Homo sapiens: one gene and its partner. The protein of the gene in region 1 interacts with the protein of each later gene in a pairwise test. Each region holds a gene or a part of one and is shown in the gene's direction. Other genes may lie near its edges.

Region 1 (8,940 bases):
CGGCCCAACCCCCTTGATCCCCAAATCCCTTTCTGGCCCTTCCTCCAGCCCCTTACCGCTCCCAGCCCCCCACGGGGCCCCGCCCCTTCCCCTCTGCGCCCCCACCCCCACCCCCGCTCCGCTTCCAACCCCTCCCCCGTCCGCCCCTTGGAGCCCCCTCCCTCTTCTGGGGCAGCGGTGGTGTGGAGGCAGGCAGCCGCAGCACTCCTGAAACTTTAAACGGTGTTAAAAGTTTCTGTTTACGAGAAACCCTTGAATTTTTAAGGACATATCGATTCCCTGCTCCACAGCCTTGCCTCGGTGGCGTGGCGGCCTCAGGCACAGTGGGGAGGCCCAGACTGGAGGGAGCCGGGGTTCCGAGGCCCCCAAGCACCGAATGACAGATACACGCCTACCCAGACACACTCTCAGGCACACAGGGACGCGATCCCTGATACACTCACACACACACAGCTAGTCACACACAGACATGGCCTGACACAGACACACATATCAGGACACACAGAGACCCCTCCCTGACACTGACACACGCATACACCAGTGTGTGTATACACACACCGACATGGCCTGACACACACACAGACTCACATCTCTGACACAGGTTTACATTGACCCCCCTCCCTGACACACACACACCCACCCACACACACCCACCCACACACACATACACTCCTAGTTACACACACTGATATGGCCTCACAGACACACACATTGACATGGCCTGACACACACAGACTCACATCTCTGATACAGGTTCACAGGGACTCCCCCTTCCCTGGCACACACACATACACACACCTAGTCACATACACTAACATGGCCTCACATAGACACACACACACGACCTGACACACACAGACACATGTATCTGGACACACAGAGACCTCCTCCCTCATACACAGACACACACACCGACATGGCCTCGCTCTCGCTCTCTCTCACACACACAAACATGCACACACGCATGGCTACACACACTCTCTGGCATGGCCTGACACACACAGGCTCACATCCTTGTCACACAGAGCCCCCATGTCCTGACAGCCCTGATCCCTGACACTCCTGAGCACCTGTGTACACACCCTGGTACACAAAGATCCTCATCACCGCCCTAGGTCCACATAGCAAAACACACACCTAGTGACACCCATTGACACTTTCTGCCCCACAGACCCTGATCACAAACAGGGCTGGCTATGCCCATTGGGCTCTTGCAAGCAGGTCCCAGACCCACTGGGACCCTTGCACAGTCACTCACGTGATCACACTTCAAGACACACACACACACAGACCCATATACACTGACACTGCACTGTTGTCCAGGCTGGAGTGCAGTGGCGCGATCATGGCTCACTGCAACCTCCGCCCCCTGAGCTCAAGCCATCCTTCCACCTCAGCTTTTGGAGTAGCTGAGACCACAGGCACGCACCACCACGCCTGGCTTTTTTTTTTTTTTTTTTTTTTTTGTATTTTTTGTAGAGATGGAATCTCATCATGTTGCCAAGCTGGTCTTGAACTCCTGACCTCAAGCAATCTGCCCATTTCAGACTCCTGAAGTGCTGGGATTATAGGCATGAGCCACCGCATCCGGCCTACACTGACACTTTTTTTTTTTGAGACGGAGTCTCGCTCTGTCGCCCAGGCTGAAGTGCAGTGGCGTGATCTCGGCTCACTGCAAGCTCCGCCTCCCGGGTTCACGCCATTCTCCTGCCTCAGCCTCCCAAGTAGCTGGGATTACAGGCGCCCGCCACCATGCCTGGCTAATGTTTTGTATTTTTAGTAGAGACGGGGTTTCACCGTGTTAGCCATGATGGTCTCGATCTCCTGACCACCCGCCTCGGCCTCCCAAAGTGCTGGGATTACAGGTGTGAGCCACCGTGCCCGGCTGGTGTTTGCTTGCTTGCTTGCTTGCTTTTCTTTTTCTTTCTTTTTCTTTTCTTTCTTTCTTCCTTTCTCTTTTTCTTTTTCTTTTCTTTCTTTCTTTCCTTTCTTCCTTCCTTCCTTTCCTTCCCTCCTCTTCCTTCTTTCTTTCTTTCCTTTGTTTCTTTCTCTCTCTCTCTCTTTTTCTTTTTTTCTTTTCTTTTTTTTGAGATAGAGCCTTGCTCTGTTGCTCAGTCTGGAGTGCAGTGGTTCGATCTCGGCTCACCGCAACCTCTGCCTCCTAGGTTCAAGCAATTCTGCCTCAGCCTCCTGAGTAGCTGGGATTATAGGCGCCTGCTACCATGCCCGGCTAAATTTTATATTTTTAGTAGAGATGGGGTTTCACCATGTTGGTGAGTCTGGTCTCGAGCTCCTGACCTCAGGTGATCTGCCTGCCTCGGCCTCCCAAGGTGCTGGGATTATAGGCATGAGCCACCACGCCTGGCCATGGTCTTTATTTTCTTCCCCCACCATGTCCCCAGTGCTTGGTATAGGACCGGGCAGGCACCTTCTCTGCCTCATGACACCTTAAGTACAAAGTCAGACCCAGTCTCTGCTGCACAACATACAGATCCACACAAAAAGATTCTTGCTTTGTTTTTTAAAATTTTTATTATTTATTTATTTATTTATTTATTTATTTATTTATTTATAGATGGAGTGTCGTTCTGTCACCAGGCAGGAGTGCAGTGGCGCGATCTCAGCTCGCTGCAACTTCCGCCTCCTGAGTTCAAGTGATCTCCGGCCTCAGCCTCCCGAGTAGCTGGGACTACAGGTACACGCCACCACACCCAGCTAATTTTTGTATTTTTAGTAGAGACGGGGTTTCACCATGTTGGCCATGATGGTCTCGATCTCTTGACCTCATGATCTGCCTGCCTTGGCCTCCCAAAGTGCTGGGATTACAGGCGTGAGCTCTCCCTTTCTCTCTCTTTCGTTTTGAGACAGAGTCTTGCTCTGTTCCCCAGGCTGGAGTGCAGTGGTATGGTCTTGGCTTACTGCAGCCTCTGCCTCCCAGGTTCAAGCGATTCTCCTGCCTCAGCCTCCCTAGTAGCTGGGATTACAGGCATCCCACCACGCCCAGCTAAGTTTTTTATTTTTAGTAGAGACAGGGTTTCACCATATTGGCCAGGCTGGTCTCAAACTCCTGACCTCAGGTGATCCACCCGCTTCGGCCTCCCAAATTGCTGGGATTATAGGTATGAGCCACCACGCCCAGCCAGACTCTTGCACCTATCATGACCTGCATTTCTTCAGTGTCCCCGGAAGACACCAGACCCATCTAGACACCCACAGACACACTGCCTGCCACACAGCCTAATACAGTATTGTGACAAGGAGCATATCGTTTCTGGGACATTTACACACATACTCACGTACACATGCATACTTTTGTGCCTGCTTGCAAGAGCCCAATGGGCACAGCCAACCCTGTGTGCGTGCGCACCCCCCGCCCTGGGCACTGACACCCCCTTTAACAGACAATGCATAGCTGAGAATTGCCACAGCTTTTTGGCCCAAGAGAGCAAGAAGGTGCTGGTTGCACCTGGCAGCAGGCGGGTGTTTTGTCTCAGCAGGAGCTGCCTGGGGGCTGTAGGCACTGCCTCCCCACCCACCCTGAGGGTTACCAGAGGGCTTCCTCTCCCCTTGCTCCAGGGTCCCCAGCACTACCTCTCCCCCCAGGCCTTTATGTTCTGAAAATGAGGAGTCAGGGCCCGCAAGAGGGGCTGGAACCTCACCAAAGTGTGTGTGTGTGTGTGTACATGTACGGAGGCCCTGATGCCCAATTCTGTCCCTGACAGCTGAGCTGTGGGTCTCCTGCTATATTTGCCTATGTCGATGATCAGGGCCACATTACAAGTGTGTTGGGGGGGGGGCACGTAAGGGACATGGGTGTATGTGTGTGATCCCTGTGTGCATGGCTAGATGATTCTCCCAGGGGGGTTGTCAGCCGCCTGGGCATCAGTTGGTCAGTGTGTCCAAGGCCTGTGGGTACATCTGGGCAACCCAGTGTGTGTGTGTGTGTGTGTGTCTGTGTGTTGTGTTGTGACAGCCAGTGTTGCTTTGTATCTGTGACGCTGTGTATCTCTTTGTATTGGGGTCCTTTGCATTCACTTCCAGGTGTTTGGTGTGTGTTTATGTGACATTGTGTATCTTCCCTTCATTAGTGTCATCTTATTTATTTAGTTATTTTTTTTCAGACAGGGTCTTGCTCTGTCACCCAGGTTGGAGTGCAATGGCACTATCATGGCTCACTGCACCCTTGACCTCCCCGGGCTCAAGGGATCCCCCCACTTCAGCCTCCTAAGTAGCTGGGACCACAGGCATCCACCACCACACCCAGCTAATTTTTGTATTTTTGGTAGAGAGGGGTTTTGCCATGTTGTCCAGGCTGGTCTTGAACTCCTGAGCTCAAGCAATCCACTGGCCTCGGCCTCTCAATCATCAGTGTCATTCTGTACATCGGGGTGTACTGCCACAACTGCCAGTGTGTTCTGGCACTGCGATGTGTGTGTGTTGTGTATGTGTCTGCGTGTAGGAATTGTGTGTCTGGAAGGTGTCAGCGTGTGGCTGTGTGATCTTGCATGTGTCTGTGTTCTGCAGGAACATGCGTCAGTGTGTGTGCATCAGTGTGCATCTCTATGTGTCATGCACTGGTGTGTCTTCGTGTATATCAGTGTGTGTCTACGTGACGCCTGCTTTGGTGTATGTCTATACGCGGTTCCTTGTTGTGTGCCTGGATACCATGGTGGGACGGTGCATGTCAGAGCGTGGGTCGTGGGTGTTTTCCCAGACTGCTGTGTGTGTGTGCCCGTGTGTAGGGGTTGTGTGTCTGTGCCTTGTGTGCACTGGTGTCCGAGTGTGCTTTGTGTTCGAAGGCGGAACGTGTGGCCAGGCGTTCTGGACGTGACATGTGTGGCGGGGTCCGAGTCCCGCTGCGTGTCAGCGTGTGTCTGCGCTGGAACGCGGGCCAGCACGTGTCAGGGCGGCCGCGTCGGTGTGCGCCCCCGCGCGCGCGTGTGCGTGTGTTCGTGTGTGTGTGTGCATGTGTGTGCTTGTGTGTGTGCGCCGGCCGCCGCTCCCCCGCCCTGCCCGCCCCTCCCCGCGCCCCTCCTCCCGCCCGCGCCGCCCGCCCGCTCCCTCTCCCCGGAGTGCGCCGCTTCCAAACTTTGTCTAAACTTTCACTTTCACAGCGCGGCGGCTGCGGCGGCGGCGGCGGCGGGCGAGGGTGACCGGCCGAGCGGCGGCGGCATGGAGTAGACGCGCGGCGGCAGCGGCGGCGGCGGCGGACGCGAGAGGCAGCGGCGAGCGCGGCGGCGGCGGCGGCAGCGGCGGCCCCGGAGCCGGCGGGGCCGAGCTTGCGAGCGGCGAGCGCGGAGCGGCGCCGGGCCGAGCGCGGGGCCGCGGGCCGGGCGGGCGCAGCGCGGCGGAGGCCGGAGGAGCCGAGCCGGAGCCCGAGCCCGAGCGCGGCCGCCGCCTGCCGGGCCTCCCCTCGCCGCGGCCGGCCGCCGCGCTCCCGCCCGGGCGCCCAGCTATGTACTCCCCGTACTGCCTCACCCAGGTACCGGCCGCCGCCCCCGCGCGACCGGGGGAGGGGAGCGGGCGCGGGAGGCCGGCCGGCGGCGCGGGCGGAGGGGACGCGCGGCGGCCGGGAAGGGGGGGCCGAGAGCCCGCGGGCCGCCGAGGGGTGCAGGCTGTGCCGCGGGGAGCCCAGGCACGCGTGCGGGCGTCACCGTGCGCGTGCGACCCTGGCCACCGGGCGGACTCCTTTTGGGGGTTCCGGGGGTGGCCAGCTGCGTCGTGGCGCTGCCCGTGGAGCGCAGGCGGGAGTGCGTGTACGTGTGTGTGTGTGTGTGTGTGTGTGTGTGCGCGCTCGACTGGGGTGCGATGGGCAGCGGGACTCCGGCTGACCTGTGGGCTACTGTAGCGCGCACCCGGGCAGCGTGGTCGCTGGCAGTGTTTGCGGGGTTGACAGAGTGGCAAGAGGGTGGTCCCGAGGGCGCAGAGGGGACACTGGGTCCCGCGACGCTTCCTGGGGAGGGCGCAGCGGTTCCCGAGGGTGGCAGTGGCCGGCGTGCGTGGCGGCGGCCCTTGCGTGCGGCCGGGGTGCCTGGGGTGGGCCGAGCGGCCCGGGCGTCTCCCCAAAGTCTTTGTTTAGGCCTCACATGGGAGCGGGGCTAAGAAAATGGCGGGGCTCCCAAATTTCGGAGGGGCAGGGGAGGGGAGAGGGGGGCGGGCGCGCTGCCAGCGGTGGCCGCGCCTCTCCGACCCCGGACGTCGCAGCCTCTGCCCCCCCACCCCCAAACTTTCCTCGGCGCAAACTTTCTGGCCCCAGCGACCCGGGCTGCTGCGGAGTGGACCCGGCAGGCCTGGGGAATCCCGTCCCGTCGCCTGGAGGCGGGAGGGGCGGGAGGCAGCCGTGGACACAGCCGACAGTGCTGCGGCCACACCGTCGGGTCAGCCTCGGGCACAACAGCGCCGACCTTGGCGCGTTGCTAGAGCGCGTCCCGCCTGCAGCGAAGTTCCCTGCGCGGCGCACGGCTGCGGCAAAAGCTTCGAGGATGCCTGTCGGGCCACCCAACTCTCCCTGGGCTGTGGCCTGAGGCTCTAAGAGGGCACAGAAGCTGCCCAGAGTCCCACAGTGGCCCTGACAGCGTTGCCTGCAGGGCCAAGCCACAGCTGGTAACAGTCTCCGAAGAGGGGACATCTAGGGGCTGCTTAGCCCTGCTGCCAGCCAGGCCTGCATGTGGGGGTTCTCTAGGCCAGGCCCTAATTGTCCCCTCTGCCCAGCCTGATCCTTGTCAGCCATGTGCCAAGTGTGTCCACAGCTTACAGTGGCAGTCCACATGGGTATGGCTCCTACTTTGTCTGGGTCCTACCGGGAGTGTGCAGTGGTGTCAAGGGGCGAGGGGTTTGTCGGGGTGTGTGTCAGCTGTGGCTACACCACACTCCTGTATGCACAGGTGAGAGTGTATGCAAGTGTGAATCAATCTAGAGTCTGTGTGTAGCCCCTGTGGGCCGGCCATGGGCAGGCCTGCGTGGCATGGCCGTGTGTGTGGCCCAGGGAGCGGGTTTTCCTGTAGAAAGCAGGCCCAAGTACGTGTTGGCGAGGGCGCACCGGCATGCATACATGTTGCAGTGTGCATGCAGGTGTGAGCAGGCACCCTGAGCACCATGGCAGTGTGGGGAACCCCCACATCTGCACCTCCAGTTCCACGGCCACTCCATGTTGGGCGCCCCTCACAACAACTGCCTACCCAGCGGTGTCTGAGCTGGGCCTCTTTGGTGCTACACTTGGCTGGGCTGTGTGGCCGATGTTTGGGGCCTAGTGGAACCAAGACCCCACGCTCAAGCAGCCCCTTGCCCACCAGGCTGCCAGCCCGGCCTCCCATGCCAAGCACGCCAGACATCTGAGCCTGCTCCCCCATGGCTTGGGTGAGACACCAGCCCCTCAGATTTCACAGCACCCTGGGAGAGAAAATGCCTGTGGATACGCCGGTGACATGGCTAGGAAGGGGCTGGGGCGGCTGCGAGACCCAGGGCGATGGCCGGTGCTTGGCTCTGTGTGATTGTAGGCCCAGGTTACGACAGTTCCAGTGTGCCAGGATGGCTGGAGAGGGGAGTGGGCATGGTGTCTCCAGGCTGCCAGCCCTTCATGGTGGGCAGGGAAACCCTTCAGCTCTGGGCAGGTGGCTGCTGTCGGCTGGTCAGTGGGGTCTGGCCTGCCCCTCCCTAACAATCACATCTCTGTTTTTACAAATCTTTCTGCTTCCATGGTTTGCCCCGCTGGTCTCTGTTTTTATGACAACCTCTTTCCTTTGCTGTCTTTTTCTCGGTCTGTTTTTATCGGTCTCTGGTGTATTCTGCCCTTTTCCATCTCTCTTTCTCCATCTCTGTCCTTTTGTATGTCTCTGACTGTCTCTGTCTCTGATTCCAGTTTTGGCCCCATCTCTGCTCCCCCCTCCACTGGCGTCTCGGACTCTCTCTCTCTCTGTCTCTCTGGCCTGCCTCTCTCTCTTTCCCTCTCTCTCTCTCCCTTTTCTTTTTTTCAAACCAGAATTGGCTTCGATTTTAAAGTCAATAAATGATTGAGCAGGAACGAGCTTGGAGCAGCGGGGCCCTGGCGGGGAAAGGTACTGTGGGCGAGGGGGAAGGGCGGGGGGAAAAATCTCCTTCTAGAAAAAGCATCGAAATTCAGGGCGGCCGGGTGGGGCGGTTCCTGGAGCTGCTGGAGTCCATTGTAGCCACAGTCCTGAGTCTCAGGCGGAGAGAGGGGTGGGGGGTGGATGGATGGACCCCCATCCCCATCCCAACCCTGCCAAGAAACAGAGACACAACCAGGATGTGAACTCACGTACACCACCATCACCGCCAAGATGGGGATGTAAGTGTCCTGTTCACACCGATGTCCAGACCCACGACCATCGACGAGCCTACAGACCTACGGACACAGGAAACCGACGACTTGTGTTCACACTGTCACACACACCCATTAACACACACGCACCTCTTGAAATGGGACACGTATATTGGTGTAGGCTTAGCGACACAGCAGTACCTCTTTGACGCACGTATGGACACAGGAAACTGTGGACTTGTGTTCACAACCACCCCCAGCGCACACATAAACACTCACAAACCCCTCGAGATGATACAGATAGCGACGAAGGCACATGGAGACCACGACACCTCCCAGACTCATGGAGCCCTGAGCACATGCTTGGATACAGGTAGACACAAATGTGTGTTCACCCCCACACATGCTCACATGGACCCAAGGACGGACAGGCGGATGGATGGATACACATCTTTACACAGAGACATAATGCAGTTGGCTCGCTCAGGTGTGTACACAAATAACTTTTCTTTTTCTATTTTTTTTTTTTTTGAGACGGAGCCTTGCTCTGTCGCCCAGGTTGGAGTGCAGTGGCGTGATCTCGGCTCACTGTAACCTCTGCCTCCCGGGTTCAAGCAATTCTCTGCCTCAGCTTCCCGAGTAGCTGGGATTACAGGTGCCCG
Region 2 (6,832 bases), on another chromosome or scaffold:
TCTTGCCTCACTGCAACTTCTACCTCCTGGGCTGAAGCAATCCTTCTACCTCTCAGCTTCCCAAGTAGCTGGGACTGCAGGTGCATACCACCACACCTGGCTAGTTTTTGTTTTTTTTTTTTTTTTTGTAGAAATGGGGTTTTGCCATGTTGTCTAGGCTGGTCTCAAACTCCTAGGTTCCAGTGATCCACCTGCCTTGGCCTCCCAAGGTTACACCCATGAGCCACCATGCCCAGGCTATTTTAGTTTTTCTTACAGGGTCTTGCTTTGTCTCCCAGGCTGGAGTACAATGTCATGATGATAGTTCACTGCTGCCTCACCCTGTTGGGCTCGGGCTGGGACCCAGGCTCAAGCCATTGCACTCAGCTGTTTTTTTTTGTTTTTTTTTTTAAGGTTTTTGTATTGACAGGGTCTCCCTATGTTGCCCAGGCTGGTCTTGAACTCCTGGGTTCAAGCAGTCCTCCTACCTTGGCTTCCCAATGTGCTGAGATTATAGACATGAGTAACCACACCCAGCCAAGTTTATTACAAATTGTAGAGAAGAGAATAAAATTAGGGAAGTGACATCAGAGGGAGCAAGTGACAGAGCGAACCCAGAGAAGTGGAACATGCCAAAGTATGGCAATAATTGTTCCCAGGAGAAAAATTATTTTTTTAAGAAAAGGAAGGCCAGGCATGGTGGCTCCCGCCTGTAATCCCAGAACTTTGGTAGGCCGAGGTAGGAGAATTGCTTCAGCCCAAGATTTGAAGACCAGCCTGGGCAACATAGCAAGACCTCATCTCCACTAAAAATCAAAAAAAATAATCGAGTGTGATGGTGCACACCTGTGATCCCAGCTACTAGGGAGGCTGAGGTGAGAGGATTCCTTGAATCCTTCTTTGCTGAGAAGGGCTGTTTTCTGCTCATCCTGGATCTTGGGGGCTTCAGATATGTCTAAGAGCAGAAAAGCTTTTCCCATTGCCACTGGGTCACAAAATAGCCGAAAAGTAGACAAAAAATAGAGTCAGAACTGCCTTAAAGAGATGGAAATGCACTATTAGAGAGCCAGCTTTGTTTTGGCAAGAGCATAGAACACAGAAGAGGAGTGTATCGGGCAGAATGTTCTTTTTTCTGCTTCCAGGAAGTGTCACACACTGTGCTTGCTTGGAGAATCCCGAAACCCTGCAGGAGAATACTGTTGCCTGCTCCTATCTCATTATGCACCCAGTGCACAAACATGTGCATACTGACTGACTTCAGCACATGAAGGGGCTTGGTAGTCATTCAAATGTCATCTTTCTTTGGTGCAGACCTGGCTGACCAGGGCTCTTATTCAAATTATTGACCTTTGCCTGTACCTAGCTCTGGGCTCACTTATGAACCAGGGTCTTACAGTAACACCAGCCCTGTGGGGGGGATCTTGTAATAGTTCAAATACTGGCATATTGGCTAGGCGTGGTGGTTCACGCCTGTATTTCTAACTGCTCAGGAAACTGGCAGGAGGAGTCTTTGAGTCCAAGAGCTCAAGGCTGCAGTTAGCCATGATTGTGTCACTGTACTCTAGCTTGGGTGACAGAGCGAAACCCCATCTCTTTTTTTTCCCTTTTTTTTTTTTTTGAGACAGGATCTCACTCTGTCACCCAGGCTTAAGTACAGTGGTGCGATCACGGCTCACTGCAGCCTTGACCTCCCAGGCCCAAGGAATCCTCCCACCTCAGCCTCCCTGGTAGCTGGGATCACAGATGTGCACCATCACACGACTAATTTTTTTGATTTTCAGTGGAGATGAGGTCTGGCTATGTTGCCCAGGCTGGTCTTCAACTCTTGGGCTCAAACAATTCTCCCACCTCCGCCTCCCAAAGTTCTCGGATTACAGGCGTGAGCCACCATGCCTGGTCTTCCTTTTTTAAAAAAAGATAAATATTGTAGAAGAGACCCTGTATCTTAGCTAATAATAATAATAATAATAATAATAATAAAATCCCCCAAAGAGTATCAGTCTCTTTATCTAGAGAAGAAATGACAATAGCCGTTTTTTTTGTTTTTTTTGTTTTTTTGTTTTTTTGTTTTTGAGATGGGAGTCTCGCTCTGTTGCCGAGGCTGGAGTGCAGTGGTGCAATCTCGGCTCACTGCAAGCTCCACCTTCTGGGTTCACACCATTCTCCTGTCTCAGCCTCCCGATTAGCTGGGACTACAGGAGCCCGCCACCACACCCGGCTATTTTTTGTGTTTTTAGTAGAGACGGGGTTTCACCATATTGGCCAGGATGGTCTCAATCTCCTGACCTCGTGATCCACCCGCCTCGGCCTTCCAAAGTGCTGGGATTACAGGCATCAGCCACTGCGCCTGGCCGGCCTTGCTTTTTAGAGACAGTTGAGATGAGAGAAGACTTGGTAAGGGCAAACGGGCGTGCATGCCAGTTCTTTGGGTCCTGGACCACCTTTGAAAATATGCAAAGCTCTGTACACTCTCAGAGAATTATGCATATATGCAGAGTTTGGTTTATAGTTTTCTGTACTTCACTGTCTCTGAGGGCAGTCTTTTTGCCCTGTGTTAGCCTTGGATTAGAGGGTAACAACAATCATGTAAGGCTGTGGTTCTCAAGTGTGGTGTTAGAAGTGCTCATCATCAGGTTCCACCTCAGAAACAGATTGGGACCCAGCTATCTGTGTTTTAAGAAGCTTTCCAGATGATTTTTGCCACACTTTAGGGAGAGTCCCCTGATGAAATTTATACTCCTGTGTGGTCCTTATGCTTCACACATCCCATATTGTACCTTTGAGAGACCACCTGCCATCCTCTTGTTGTGACAGTACTCTATTCCTCCTAGGCTATGTCTTGCCCAGCCACGTGACTGAGGAGATGCTATGGGAGTGCAAGCAGCTTGGGGCTCACTCCCCCTCCACCTTGCTGACCACCCTCATGTTCTTTAATACCAAGTAAGTGTTCTAGAGGCTCCACTGCTGGCATCTGTCCAGTGAAGAGTGTGGAAGCTATCCAAGAGGCCTTCTGAATTCCTCTGACATATATTTGAGAAACTGGGCTACTGAAAGCCCTAACCCCACTTGGCTGCATTTTATTTGGTAACCAGTGAGGCAAACACCCTTGCCAGACCCCTACCATCCATCTTGATGTGGTTCCTGCACTGGACACTGCTTGGGTACGGGCCTGCCCAGATCTTGGGAATGTGGGCAGTGGCTCCTCTGAAGCACCAGTGGGCAGAGGATGAGTCATGGTATCCTCCCGGCACCCCTCCCTCTGCCTTGCATTTTACTTGTGATCCAGGTACTTCCTATTGAAGACAGTGGACCAGCACATGAAGCTGGCCTTCTCCAAGGTCTTGCGACAGACAAAGAAGAACCCCTCTAATCCCAAGGATAAAAGCACGAGTATCCGGTACTTGAAGGCCCTTGGAATACACCAGACTGGCCAGAAAGGTAGGGAAAGGAGGCAGGGATGGCAAAAACAGGTGCTACTTGTCCTGCCCTGTCCTGCCCTTGTGCCTGTGAGGCTAGTGATAAGTGTAAAGGTTGGGATTTGCTGGATAAAATTCTCCACTCCCTTCTCCCCAGCCAAAAATTCCAAACTTTCCTCCTAGAAGCAGAGAAGCCCCAGACAGAATAGCTGCCTCTTCCCTTAGTAGTCACTGCCCATGCCTCATACCTTCCCTCCCCCGACCCTGTATTTCCTAGTTGGGCTGGCTGAAAGCCTAAGTTTCCTGATCTGGGCCTGAGGTAAGGCAGTCTGATGCCAGGTCTGTGGTGGTGGGGATGTGTGTTTTATAGTTACAGATGACATGTATGCAGAACAGACGGAAAATCCAGAGAATCCATTGAGATGTCCCATCAAGCTCTATGATTTCTACCTCTTCAAATGGTGAGGCTTTATTGTGACTTGCTGTCCATGTGTGCGCATGTGTGTGTATGCGTGTGCATGCTCACTTGTGTGATCACTTATCATAGGGGAGAGGCATTCTCTAGTCCCAAACCAAGTAAAAACACTTCCAGAAAGCTAAATTTAGAAGCAGCCTTGCTCTGGCTTTCCAAAGGTGTGTGATGTGCCTAGCACTGATAGAAAAAGGGGTCCCGGGTCCCTACAGTCACCTTTCATGAAAAGGGTATGAAGGTACAGAGAATCTACCTTCATCACATATTGAGCATGGCCCTGCTTCCTGACCTTGACCTTTTGTCACTGCCATCATTAATCTAGGTGAGACTCCTCTCAGCTTTTTCTCCCTTTTGCCCCTTCAATGGTTTCTCATTACATAGTAATTCTTTTATGGCAGACAACTCCTTTGATGCACTCCCCCTTGCTAACCTCATGTCTGTGGAGCTCTTAGTTCCCTAGCCACACTAGCTCCTCTCCACTCAAGGACATCATATTATGCCTCTTCTCAACTTAAACACAGCTTATCAGGGAAGCATTTCCAGATTCCCCACCTCTTCCCTGTGACTGTTTCCTCGGTAGCACTTATCACTGTTTTTTATTTTGTATTTGTTTAACTTTAATTGCTACCTGTGTCCCCTCCTATCTGTAAGCTCCATGGGTAGGAAATACTTTTCCTGCCCATTTTTTTAAATATCAGCACCTAGTGCTGACCTGGCACTAGTAACCCTTGAATAAATCTTGAATGGATGGATGAATAACTGTTAGAGGATACAGCATGCCAAGTACTTAATAGAGGTACAGCACAGTTCGGGGGAGGGGGGTGAACCCAAGTTTAGGGCCCCACTGTAATGGCCATCATTATTGGGTAGAAAACACAACATGAGGCTGGGCACCGTGGCTCACGCCTGTAATCCAAGCACTTTGGGAGGCCAAGGTGGGTGGATCACCTGAGGTCAGGAGTTCGAGACCAGCCTGGCCAACATGGAAAAACCCCATCTCTACTAAAAAATACAAAAATTAGCTGGGCTTGGTGGCTCGTGCCTATGGTTCCAGCTACTCCAGAGGCTGAGGCAGGAGAATCGCTTCAACCAAGGGGGCGGAGGTTGCAGTGAGCTGAGATCACCTCACTGCACTCCAGCCTGGAGACAAGACGCCATCTCAAAAAAAAAAAAAAAAAAAGCGCAAAGACTTGGAGATAGACGCTTTGAGCAGTGAAGCTGGCTTCAAGTAGGATAAGGATAGACTCACATGAGTCCATGAGAGCCCTAGGCTGGTGCAGTCAGTGATGGATCACAGCTGGTTTGTGGGAAGGAGGGGCAGAGGGGAAGTAACCCAACATTTGGGGGATTTGCAGTAGTCCCAAAGGAGGACCAGGATGTAGTGTGTGGTGGCTGCATGGAATTCAGTAGCTGTGCCACAATAACTTGGGGCCTTACTGTTTGCAGACAGCATCTGTCTGGGAAGTTCAGGGTGGGAGGGTTGAAGTTATATTGGTGGTACCCAACTTTTATCCGCATATTCTTCAGCCCCCAGAGTGTGAAAGGCCGGAATGACACCTTTTACCTGACACCTGAGCCAGTGGTGGCCCCCAACAGCCCAATCTGGTACTCAGTCCAGCCTATCAGCAGAGAGCAGATGGGACAAATGCTGACGCGGATCCTGGTGATAAGAGAAATTCAGGAGGCCATCGCAGTGGCCAATGCAAGCACTATGCACTGAGATGCCTTGGCCATGGCACAAGAGAAACCAGCCAGGAAAAACCAGACAGACTTTCACACTAAAGAAGAGGCCTCCATTTTTTTTTTTCTTTTTTTTATTGGTGTAGTTACGAAGCCTTTCAGGCTGCTTCTGTTTAAAATATAAAAGAAAACTTTGCCCCCTTTGCATCTTCATAAACCTGCTGCGGCAGACTCCTCAGCCGATGGTGGCTCTGGGTTTCCTTGAGTGTCATATGTCCTAGAAAGTTGCTGGCTGACTCTTTTTTGTCTGGGGCCTGGGGAAAGGGCTTGGACTGTGAAAAGAAATGTGGCCCCTTTCCATCTTCAAGAGAGATGGAATTAATGATGGATGGACCCTGGAGGGAATCTCCCCAGCCGACTTCCACTGGGCTGACAGACTTTGCTGACCACAGGGGAACGATGTTCTTTTCTTTCTTCATGATCAGACATAAACTTAGCATCTTAATGGAAGAAAAATGAGGGGAACTTCAATTATGATTTATTAAAGACAATTTCTATTACACCCTCCTTTATGACAAGTGACATTTTAGATGTAAAAGTAAAAACTTTACCATGCCTTTTTTTTTTTTGTTGGCCTAACATTGAGGCCTTAAAACCTGAGGCTCCTGTGCCTGATGGAATTCTTGTAACATACACTTGTGTATCATATAAAGATACCACTCTGTTTCTCTTATGTATTCTTACTCTAGTTGTTTATTAAGAATGACAAGCACGTCTTTTCAACATGTTAGTGAACAACGTCTCTTTATTTTGGGGAGGAGCCCGGCGGGACAGTAGAAGTAAACCCTTGCCTGTTAATTGAACTGGCCGAGGTCCTGCGGGGAGTGTGGGGTGGGACGTGAAGTGGCAGCTCCTCAGTGACAAGGCCACTATGTGCTATACGCATGCGCTGTTTCTTCAGCGCCAGCTCCGCCCCCGCCGCAGCGAGGCGGGTAGGTTCCGCCCGCGCGCACTACGCCCTGACGTCAGCGTCGCGCGCAGCGCAGTGACGAAATCGGCTGGTTTATATTGGCGCGGCCCAGACGGCAGAGGTCTCTGCGGCGCGGTCCTCGGAGACACGCGGCGGTGTCCTGTGTTGGCCATGGCCGACTACCTGATTAGTGGGGGCACGTCCTACGTGCCAGACGACGGACTCACAGCACAGCAGCTCTTCAACTGCGGAGACGGCCTCACCTACAAGTGCGGGCCTATGGGGCTCACCTGGGCGAAGAGAGGGGCGGCACCC

Evidence for each region. The genes of interacting proteins can lie anywhere in the genome.
Region 2: the proteins of NFIX (region 1) and QRICH1 interact in binary tests that used the Homo sapiens proteins (3 or more experiments, as listed by UniProt).

The regions. Positions count from the first base shown.
Region 1 is NC_000019.10:12,990,383-12,999,322, forward strand, and holds the start of NFIX (nuclear factor 1 X-type), read left to right. Parts: upstream 1-5,092; 5' UTR 5,093-5,455; coding exon 5,456-5,482; intron 5,483-8,940.
Region 2 is NC_000003.12:49,029,207-49,036,038, reverse strand, and holds the end of QRICH1 (transcriptional regulator QRICH1), read left to right. Parts: intron 1-2,810; coding exon 2,811-2,919; intron 2,920-3,265; coding exon 3,266-3,417; intron 3,418-3,765; coding exon 3,766-3,856; intron 3,857-5,394; coding exon 5,395-5,587; 3' UTR 5,588-6,332; downstream 6,333-6,832. Other genes in the region: IMPDH2 (inosine-5'-monophosphate dehydrogenase 2), read left to right, coding at 6,689-6,786. UniProt on the Homo sapiens protein: Transcriptional regulator that acts as a mediator of the integrated stress response (ISR) through transcriptional control of protein homeostasis under conditions of ER stress.